Homo sapiens: one gene and its partner. The protein of the gene in region 2 purifies or fractionates together with the protein of the main gene of each other region. This does not show direct contact. Each region holds a gene or a part of one and is shown on either strand. Other genes may lie near its edges.

Evidence for each region. The genes of interacting proteins can lie anywhere in the genome.
Region 1: the proteins of THUMPD2 (region 2) and TRMT1 fractionate together in Homo sapiens (co-fractionation; one large-scale study listed by BioGRID). This does not show direct contact.

What each region holds. Positions count from the first base shown.
Region 1 is NC_000019.10:13,109,212-13,114,608, reverse strand, and holds part of TRMT1 (tRNA (guanine(26)-N(2))-dimethyltransferase), read left to right. Parts: intron 1-1,597; coding exon 1,598-1,713; intron 1,714-1,791; coding exon 1,792-1,904; intron 1,905-4,302; coding exon 4,303-4,451; intron 4,452-4,607; coding exon 4,608-4,694; intron 4,695-4,770; coding exon 4,771-4,840; intron 4,841-4,924; coding exon 4,925-5,059; intron 5,060-5,142; coding exon 5,143-5,228; intron 5,229-5,397. UniProt on the Homo sapiens protein: Dimethylates a single guanine residue at position 26 of most nuclear- and mitochondrial-encoded tRNAs using S-adenosyl-L-methionine as donor of the methyl groups. tRNA guanine(26)-dimethylation is required for redox homeostasis and ensure proper cellular proliferation and oxidative stress survival.
Region 2 is NC_000002.12:39,737,373-39,742,118, forward strand, and holds part of THUMPD2 (U6 snRNA (guanine-N(2))-methyltransferase THUMPD2), read right to left. Parts: intron 4,029-4,746; exon of another isoform or gene 3,525-4,028; intron 1-3,524. UniProt on the Homo sapiens protein: Catalytic subunit of the THUMPD2-TRM112 methyltransferase complex, that specifically mediates the S-adenosyl-L-methionine-dependent N(2)-methylation of guanosine nucleotides, most probably at position 72 (m2G72), in the U6snRNA of the major spliceosome.

The DNA.
Region 1 (5,397 bases), on a different chromosome or scaffold from region 2:
CTCACTGCAACCTCCGCCTCCCAGGTTCAAGTGATTCTCCTGCCTTAGCCTCCCGACTGAGTAGCTGGGACTACAGACATCTGCTACCACACCCACCTGTATTTATAGTAGAGATGGGGTTTCACCATGGTGGCCAGGATGGTCTCGATTTCCTGACCTCGTGATCTGCCCGCCTCGGCCTCCCAAAGTGGTGGGATTATAGGCATGAGCCACTGCACCTGGCTATGCCAGGCTAATTTTTATATTTTTAGTAGAGACAGGGTTTTGCCATGTTGGCCAGGCTAGTCTCAAACTCCTGACCTCAAGTGATCTGCCCACCTCGGCCTTCCAAAGTGCTGGGATTACAGACGTGAGCCACTGCGCCCGGCCTAGCCTAGTTTATCAATGGCCCACAACCCAAGAATGTTTTTTACATTTTTAAAGGTTAAAAAAGAAGACTATGCAGTAGGGACCACATATGACTCACAAAGCCTAAAATACCTTCTGACCTTTTACAGAGAAAAAAGTTTTTACTTTTCTGACCTTACTAGAATCCAAATAGTAATCACAGACAATGAAAAGTAATTAGCTGGGCATGGTGACTCATGCCTGTAATCAAGCATTTTGAGAGGCCAAGGCAGGAGGATCGCTTGAGGCCAGGATTTCAAGACCAGCCTAGGCAACACAGTGAAACCCGTCTCTACAAAAATTTTAAAATGAGGTCAGACGCAGTGGCTCACCCCTGTAATCCCAGCACTTTGGAAGGCCGAGGTGGGCGGATCACTTGAGGTCAGGAGCTCGAGACCAGCCTGGCCAACATGGTAAAACCTCGTCTCTACTAAAAATATAAAAATTAGCCAGGCATGGTGGCACGTGCCTGTAATCCCAGCTACTTGGGAAGCTGAGGCAGGAGAATCGCTTGAACCCAGGAGGTGGAAGTTGCAGTGCGCCGAGAACCCACCACTGCACTCCAGCCTGGGTGACACAGCGAGACTCTGTCTCCAAAGAAAGGAAAAAAAAAATGTGTTAATACATCTATAAACTGCTTGAAATGGTGTCAGGCAGATACGTCTTATATCAGTATTGTTGTTGTTTTAGATGTGTGGACTGAGTTCCACATGGTGCTTTTCCTAAGTAGGAAAATTGTGCAGTTTAATAAATGACCAAGGCCAGTGCAGTGGCTCACACTTGTAATCTCAGCACTTTGGGAGGCCGAGGTGGATGGATCACTTGAGGTCAGGAGTTTGAGACCAGCCTGGCCAACATGTTGAAACCCCATCTCTACTAAAAATACAAAAATTAGCTGGGCGTGGTGGCACATGTCTGTAGTCCCAGCTACTCTACTCGGGAGGCTGAGGCGCGAGAATTGCTTGAACTGGGGAAGCGGAGGTTGCAGGGAGCCGAGATCACAACACTGCACTCCAGCTGGCTGACAGAGCAAGACTCCGACTCAAAAATAAAATAAATAAATAAATAAATGACTGAGCCAGGACTTGAACTTGGGAATCTGGCCCCGGAGTTCAGACCCAAACCACTGTGCTGTACGAGTTAATATGTGTAGGGGACAGAGAAGGTACCTGGCGTGGGAGGCTGAGGACCTGGCCCTCTTTGCACCCAGGATGCTGATGTACCAGCACCAGAGGGTGTCGGAGAGGTTTGACGTCATCGATCTGGACCCCTATGGCAGCCCAGCCACCTTCCTGGATGCAGCTGTGCAGGCTGTGAGTGAAGGAGGTGAGGTGGGGATGGCACTGGGGTGGGAGCAGGGCTTGGGGTGTTGGAGGGTTCTCACTGCCCAGCCCCTCTCTGCAGGGTTGCTGTGTGTGACCTGCACAGACATGGCGGTGTTGGCGGGGAACAGCGGGGAGACGTGCTACAGCAAGTACGGGGCCATGGCCCTCAAGAGCCGGGCCTGCCACGAGATGGTGAGGGGCCCTCTGCCAGCCAGCCAGGGAGACCGGGGGACAGGTGGTTGTCTGAGTCCCTTCCCAATACACTTTCCCCCTCCTCAGACCTGCTCAGCTTCCTCCAGGCTGATGGCCAGATGCATCCCAGGCTGTTAACGACAGGCGTGTCTTCAACCCACATAGTTCCTAAGAGCATGGCTGATAATCATGGTCATTTGGGGACAGTGGCTTTGGCCAGGACAGGAGTGCATGGCCACATTATTTTAGTTTTCTGTATTAAAACAACTTTTCAAAAAAAAATTTTTTTTTTAAAGGTCGTTTTTCCAGGACTGGGTTTAAATCCTAGCTTTGCTGGTAGCTCTGGGCAAGTGACTTCACCTTTCTGGTCCTCGGGTTTTTTTGCATCTGTAAAATGGGCACAATGATGGTCTGAAGGCCGGGCGCAGTGGCTCACACCTGTAATCCCAGCACTTTGGGAGGCCTAGGCAGGTGGATCACCTGAGGTCAGGACTTTGAGACCAGCTGGCCAACATGGTAAAACCCCATCTCTACTAAAAATACAAAAATTAGCCAGGCATGGTGGCAGATACCTGTAATCCCGGCTACTCAGGAGGCTGAGGCAGGAGAATCACTTGAACCCAGGAGGCGAGGTTGCAGTGAGCCAAGATCACTCCGCTGCACGCCAGCCTGGGAGGGAGACCCCATCTCAAAAAGAAAAAAAATAGGCCGGGCGTGGTAGCTCACGCCTGTAATCCCAGCACTTTGGGAAGTCGAGGTGGGCGGATCATGAGGTCAGGAGATTGAGACCATCCTGGCTAACATGGTGAAATCTGATCTCCACTAAACATACAAAAACTTAGCCAGGCATGGTAGCGGGCACCTGTAGTCCCAGCTGTTCGGGAGGCGGAGGCAGGAGAATGGCGTGAACCCAGGAGGTGGAGCTTGCAGTGAGCTGAGACTGTGCCACTGCACTCCAGCCTGGGCGACAGAGCAAGACTCTGTCTCAAAAAAAAGAAAAAAAAATAGGCCGGGCGCGGTGGCTCACGCCTGTAATCCCAGCACTCTGGGAGGCCGAGGTGGGCGGTGTTCAAGAGGTCAGGTGTTCAAGAGCACCCTGGCCAACATGGTGAAACCCCGTCTCTACTAAAAATACAAAAAAAAAAAAAAAAAAATTAGCTGGGCGTGGTGGTGGGTGCTTGTAATCCCAGCTATTCGGGAGGCTGAGGCAGGAGAATCACTTGAACCCGGGAGGTGGAGGTTGCGGTGAGCCGAGATGGCACCATTGCACTCCAGCCTGGGCAACAAGAGCAAAACTCTGTCTCAAAAAAAAAAAAAAAAAATGGTCTGACCCTATTGAGTGTCTGATCAGGATTCAAGAAGGCTGAGTGGCGAAGTGCAGCGGCTCATGCCTGTAATCCTAGCACTTTCGGAGGCCAAGGTGGGAGGATCACTTGAGGTCAGGAACCTGGGCAACATAGCGAGGACCCCATCTCTACAAAAAAACCCTAAAAATTACCTAGGTGTGGTGGTGGATGCCTGTGGTCCCAGCTACTCTGGAGGCTGAGGCAGGAGGATCACTTGAGCCTAGGAGTTCAAAGTTATTGTGAGCTTTGATAGTGCCACTGCACTCCAGCGTGGTCCACAGAGGGCTCTTGCCCTTGTTCCTAAAGGGTCCTGTCATGAAGTCAGCCCGGGAAATGCTGTCTCCTTTCCCATATCAGAGTCTCACACTAGCAGGAAAGCCCTAGCCGTTTTGCTTTTTTTTCTTTTTTGAGATGGAGTTTCACTCTTGTTGCCCAGGCTGGAGTGCAGTGGTGAGATCTCAGCTAACTGCAACCTTCGCCTCCCAGGTTCAAGTGATTCTCCTGCCTCGGCCTCCCTAGTAGCTGGGATTACAGGCGCCCGCCACCACACCCAGCTAATTTTTTGTATTTTTAGTAGAGACGGGGATTTCATCATGTTAGCCAGGCTGGTCTCAAACTCCTGACCAGCCTCCCAAAGTGCTGGGATTACAGGCATGAGCCACCACGCCCGGCCCAGGCCCCAGCAGTTCTACAGCACCTAGTATCCCCACTTCCTGCCCACAGAGCCCTTGGGGGCTGGAACGTGGGTCCTCAGTACATGCCACATGGCACACCGATAATGCTGGTCAGAATAGGTTGGATCTATGCTTTCCTCACTCGTTTAGTGCCCCCAGCAGTGCCACAGACAGGGACTGTTGTGATTTTGCAGATGAAGAAACTGAGGCACAGAGAGGGGATACTCACTTGTTGAGGGTCCCACAGCCAGGACTTTCAGGGGTGGGCTTGGATCCCAGGGAGCTGGCCCTGAGCCTGTACTTGTGAGTACCACATAGGGCTCCTGGTGGGGTGGGTGGATAGTGGAGGGGAGGCTGACACCCACCCCCCACCCCCAGGCCCTGAGAATCGTCCTGCACAGCCTGGACCTCCGCGCCAACTGCTACCAGCGCTTCGTGGTGCCGCTGCTCAGCATCAGCGCTGACTTCTACGTGCGTGTTTTTGTCCGTGTCTTCACCGGCCAGGCCAAGGTCAAGGCCTCAGCCAGGTCAGCCCGGGGGCAGAGAGCGGTGGTGGATTGAGAGAGGAGACAGGACCTTGCCCTGGGGGATCTGGGGCTTCTTAAGGGACAGAGCCAGTCTAAGGGAGGAGTTGGGGTGTCGTGGTCACGCTGGGAACTCGTGGCCACTGGTACCCCCCACAGCAAGCAGGCGCTGGTGTTCCAGTGTGTGGGCTGCGGGGCCTTCCACCTTCAGCGTCTCGGCAAAGCGTCAGGAGTCCCCAGCGGCCGGTGAGCAGGGAGGAAGGAGAAGAAGGGGAGTCCCAGGGTTTTCCTCCCTCCCCACCAACCACCCCTCTCTGTTTAGGGCCAAGTTCTCTGCAGCCTGTGGTCCCCCTGTGACCCCCGAGTGTGAACACTGTGGGCAACGACACCAGGTAGGGCTAGGCCAGGGGAGGCAAAGGAGCAAGAGGGTCTTGAAGGTCATAGTCCCTGCTCACCTGTCCCCGGTGCGCCCCCAGCTTGGTGGCCCCATGTGGGCAGAGCCCATCCATGACCTGGATTTTGTGGGCCGTGTCCTGGAGGCTGTGAGCGCTAACCCCGGCCGCTTCCACACCTCGGAGCGGATCCGAGGGGTCCTGAGCGTCATCACTGAGGTGAGAGCCGGGCTGTGACGGGGAAGGGGGCTCCACCTGTGCCCGTCCATCTCCACTCATGCCCATCCTGTCCCCCATCGCAGGAGCTCCCGGACGTGCCTCTGTACTACACCCTGGACCAGCTGAGCAGCACCATCCACTGCAACACACCAAGCCTCCTGCAGTTGCGGTAAGAGCCCCTGGGGTCGGGAGGAGCCTGTCCCAGACCACAGGGTGGCCTGGGGCAAGTCCAGGGATTCTCATGCATAGAACTTGCGAGGGGGTGGGGAGAACCCGGTGCACTGTCTCATTCCTGTAATCCCAGTACCTTGGGAGGCTGAGGCAGGAAGATCACTTGA
Region 2 (4,746 bases):
TTAAAAGCAGTAGCCTGACAGCAGAAGAAAGTTAACAGGAAAGAGTTAGGACACGAACAAAGAAATGGCGAAGGAAAAATCAGAAAAAGAAGGGCAGATCTTGAAATGTCAGCTTCTTGAGGAGAATGCATTTACTCAATTATCAAAGTCTATGTAGCACTTATGTGGAAAAAGTCATGAAAACACTTGCCTGTGTCCCGTGACATAGCCCTGTAAGTTGCCAAGAGATCACTGAACATCTCTTTGGGAGAGAGAGGCGAGTAAAGGGTGTGAAAATGCTATAATCAAGGCAAGCATGAGGGGCTTGGGAACATGAGGTGGGTCCCAAACCCGAGCATGGGACAGAGGAGAGAATTTCCCAGAGGAAGATACCTGTGCTATGAGTTAAAAGACAAGTGGGAATGAGCCAGGCAAAGCGACGGCAAGCGGCTGCAGCAAGGGAGGGTGCTGGAAGCAGAAAAAGCAGCAAAGACGGGAGGAAGTGGAGAGGAGGCAGCTCTGAAAGCAGCTCAGTGGGTGGGTGAGTCACAGCGGGTGGGAAGTGGAGGGAGGAGGGGAGTAAGGAGTTCAGCTTGGAACGTGCTGATGTACCTAAGGAACACATAAGTGCGGATTCCACCAGAGAGCTGGATACACAGCCTGGAGTAATGGAAAAGACCAGGCCTTGAGGTAAAGATACAGTAAATGGTAGCTAAAGCCATAATGGTGGATGGGATCACCTGGGGTGGCAGTACAGGTTGAGAAGAGAAAATGGGACAGGGAGCAGAGATTTCACATTTAAAAAGTGACGGAGGAGAAGACCCATGAAGTAGACATCCTCAGAGAAAATCTGGACAACAGTTATGTCAAGGAAGCCAAAGAAGTACAGTTTCAAGAAAGAAACAGTTTCAACAGTGTCAAATGCTATAGGGCCGGCATGGTGGCTCACACCTGTAATCCCAACATTTTGGGAGGCTCAGGTGGGAGGATCGCTTGAGCACAGGAGTTTGAGACCAGCCTGGGCAACATGGCAAAACATGTCTCTACCAAAAAAATACAAAAATCAGCCAGGTGTGGTGGCGTGTGCCTGTAATCCCAGGTACTTGGGAGGCTGGGATGGGAGGACTGCTTGAGCCCAGGGGGCAGAGGTTGCAGTGAGCTGAGATTGCACCACTGCACTCTAGTCTGGGCAACAGAGAGAGACCCTGTCTTTAAAATAAAATTATTTTTTACACACATACATATGTAAAAATATATATATAATATATATTATATATTTACATATAAATACATAATTTATATACATATAAATTATATGTATATATACACATATATACATATATAAATTATATATATATGTAAAATAACAAATGCTATAGGACTAACAGGTGATCAGGATTATGAGAAATCAGTGAACCCAGGGACAGCAATCCTAGCTGAAGGCAGGAGCAGATGCTCGTCTGCCAGGGTAGAGTGGGGCTGGAAACTGAGGAAGCAGAGGTGTCAAGTGTAGGCCATTATTTCAAGAAGTTCAGCTGTACAGGAAAAGAAACAGTGGCAGCTAAAGGACCAAGAGTTAAGGGGAATCTGCCTCATGCCCAGCAAAAATCTAAGAAGCTTAGGTAGCTTTCCCTAGTCTAATCCATCAGCAAAGCTAGACAATTCTGTCTCTAAATTGTATCACATATTTGTCTACTTCATTCATAGTTTGCCTGGACCACAGCAACAATCTGGTAGACAGGTCTTGTTTCCATTCTTGTCGCCCCTCCCACTCTGTCTTCCGTTTCCACACAGAAGACAAATGTAAATTCTTTGCTAACTCCTCAGTTGCTTGCACTGTACTTCAAATACATTCTAACCCCCTTACTCTGGCATCCAAGGCTCCTACACAATCTGACCCTTACCTACCTTTTTGATGTCACTGCCTGCTTTCTTTGCTTACTGACCTTCCTTCAGCTGCTCAAACTCACCAAGCTGCTTCTCACCTTAGGACATTTGGAATTGCTGTTCACCCTGCGTTTATCACTCATTCTTATCACTCACGCCCCACAGTCAAATATCACTTTCCCAGAGAGGCCTTTCCTGACTACCTAGCTAGGGTAGCCACTACTTTTCTCTCACTCTAAAGCAAAACATTTTGTTTTATGTCCATCACAGTACCAGTCATGATCTGACATTATCCAGTTTGTTTACTGATTAACCATCTGTCTTCTCACAATGAATGGTCAGAGACCTTGCCTGTCGTATTCACTGCTGTAATCCCCGGGGCCAAGTACATGCAAGTGCATGGGAGATGCAAAGACTTCCAAACGTGTCTGGGGAAGGGATAAATGAATCTCCTGGAAAGAACCGGCAGATGAGTAGGCAGAAGATAAAAATGAGAAGTGGGCAGAGTGTGATCCTTGAGGAGGAAGGAACTGAGAGGATAAACCCTTGCAGGAAGAGGGAAGCCTCTTCTACTGAGCAAGGAAGAAGTGGATGGGAAAATGAGTACTCTTGAAGACAGAAACTGAAGTAACTTTTTGGGGCAACAGTTTAGCAATCATGTATCAAAAATATGAAATGTACATAACCTTTGACCCAGCAATCTCACTTCTAGGAAATTATCCTAAGAAGATGTAATAGTAGTAGTAGTAGAATAACAGTGATAATAATGGTGATATAGCTAATATTTATTGAGTACTTAATATGTGCCAGGCAGTTGGATATGCTCTGTATTATGTATCATTTAAACTTCAGAATTATCTTTCTAAGTATGCTCTATAACACTGTCATTTTGCAGATGAAGAAACTGTGATACTGTGACTGTGGTGCTTGGTCATATAGTTAAGTTTGAAAAACCATGCAAGGATGTTCAAAGAATAGTTCTTTTTTAAAATAAAAAATTGGGGATTATCTAAATATTCATCCATAAGCACTGGTTGCATAATGGTACATACATATAATGTGGCAACCACTGAAAATTATAATGTATATTGTAACAACTGATCAGAAAGGAGATTCATGACATTGTTGAGTAGAAAAAAAGCAATGCTACAGTACATTAAGGACAATCCTATTTATGTAGAGTAGTAAACATGTATCCTTTTGTGCATATGTACATGACAAGATGCCTAACAGGACAGTCACCATTTATTGTAATTTTGTTCAAATAATGGAGAGAAAGTGAAAATCACCTGAAATCCTGCTACTCTGAGATGAACATTTTCCATAAATGTCCTTCTAGGCATCTTTCCATGATCATACGCACATAATTTCTTTTCTTTTCTTTTTTTTTATTTTTTTAGAGATGGGGTCACTCCGTCACCTGGGCAGCTTGATCATACCTCAAGCTACTGGTGTCACCTAGTTCATATACACATAATTTCTTTTCTTTTCTTTTTAGAGATGGGGTCTCATTCTGTCACCCAGGTAGCTTGATCGCAGCCCACTGCAGCCTCCAACTCCTGGGCTCAAGCGATCCTCCTACTTTAGCCTTCCAAGTAGTGGGACTGAAGGTGCATGCCACCACACCTGGCTAATTTTTAAATTTTTTATTTATTTAGAGATGAGTTCTTGCTATGTTGTCCGGGCTAGTCTTGAATTCCTGGCCTCAAGTGATCCTTCCACCCCAGCATCTTGAGTTGCTGAGACTACAGGTATGAGCTACTGTGCCCAGAAACACATAATTTCTTACTATGAAAGCTATTCAGAATTATAAAGCAATGTTTACCAAATTGTATTCCTTTGAACACTAGTGTATCAGTGATGATAATAATAAGAATACAATATTACTATTTCTTAAGAAAAAACTCTGCAGTCAGTAAGTTGGGGGAAGTCTGTATCAAACAGCATAAGAGATTTCCCTTTCGTATGTGAACCTGAAAAACTAGGAGTAGATGGTACAAATAATCTTAAATTATTTGTCCATGGAACACATTAAGTCTTAACCACCTACTATAAATCCTTTGCTCCAGGCAGTCTGGTATACTCATTGTTCCATGAACACACCTCCTGCTGTACTGCTCACTCAAGAAATACTTAATAAACATCTGTACATATAAACATGATGTGGTCTCCTTTTCAATTCTGTCTTCACTTCCAAATTTCACTGAAATCTGGCTTCTTCCTGAAACCATCTCAAGCCTCTTTGGCACACAATGCCTTCTTCCTTCAAGCGGTGCAAGGTGAATTTTTAATTTTGCTCATGTATTTGCACAGTTACATTTGAGGAGAAAACTCAAATGTACTTCTCTGAATTCCTGACAATGCTCTGTACCCATAATCCTTTAATACATTAAAGGAGGAAATAATTGAGCTGAGAATGCATAGCTCATGCCACCAGAGTAATCATTTATCTGACAATCTTTAATTCTGATTGCATGTCCTTTCTCGAAGAGTCCAGCTCTGTAGTACATACAGTACTATTTCCACTGCCTGTTATGAACAGGTTTGTTGTATTTTCATGAACACAATTTCCTATCCCTTCCATTTTCTATCTAGGGCCTTAAACTATCAGTAAACCATTGGGATAAAAATTATGTGTACTCCGATATATTTAAATATATCCTCACACACTTCCCAAAAGGATTTTCAGTGGTATACACTAAAAAATCAGGTAAGTGATAACAGATACTGAGTAAGTTCTAGGTGGCCAGCACTGTTGTAAGAGCTTTAAATCCACTGACTCAGAACAATGCCATTAAGTGGGTATTAAAGATAGGCAAGTGGTTAAGCAATATGCCTGTGACTGAAGAACTATTAAGTAATAGAGCCAAGAGTGGAACT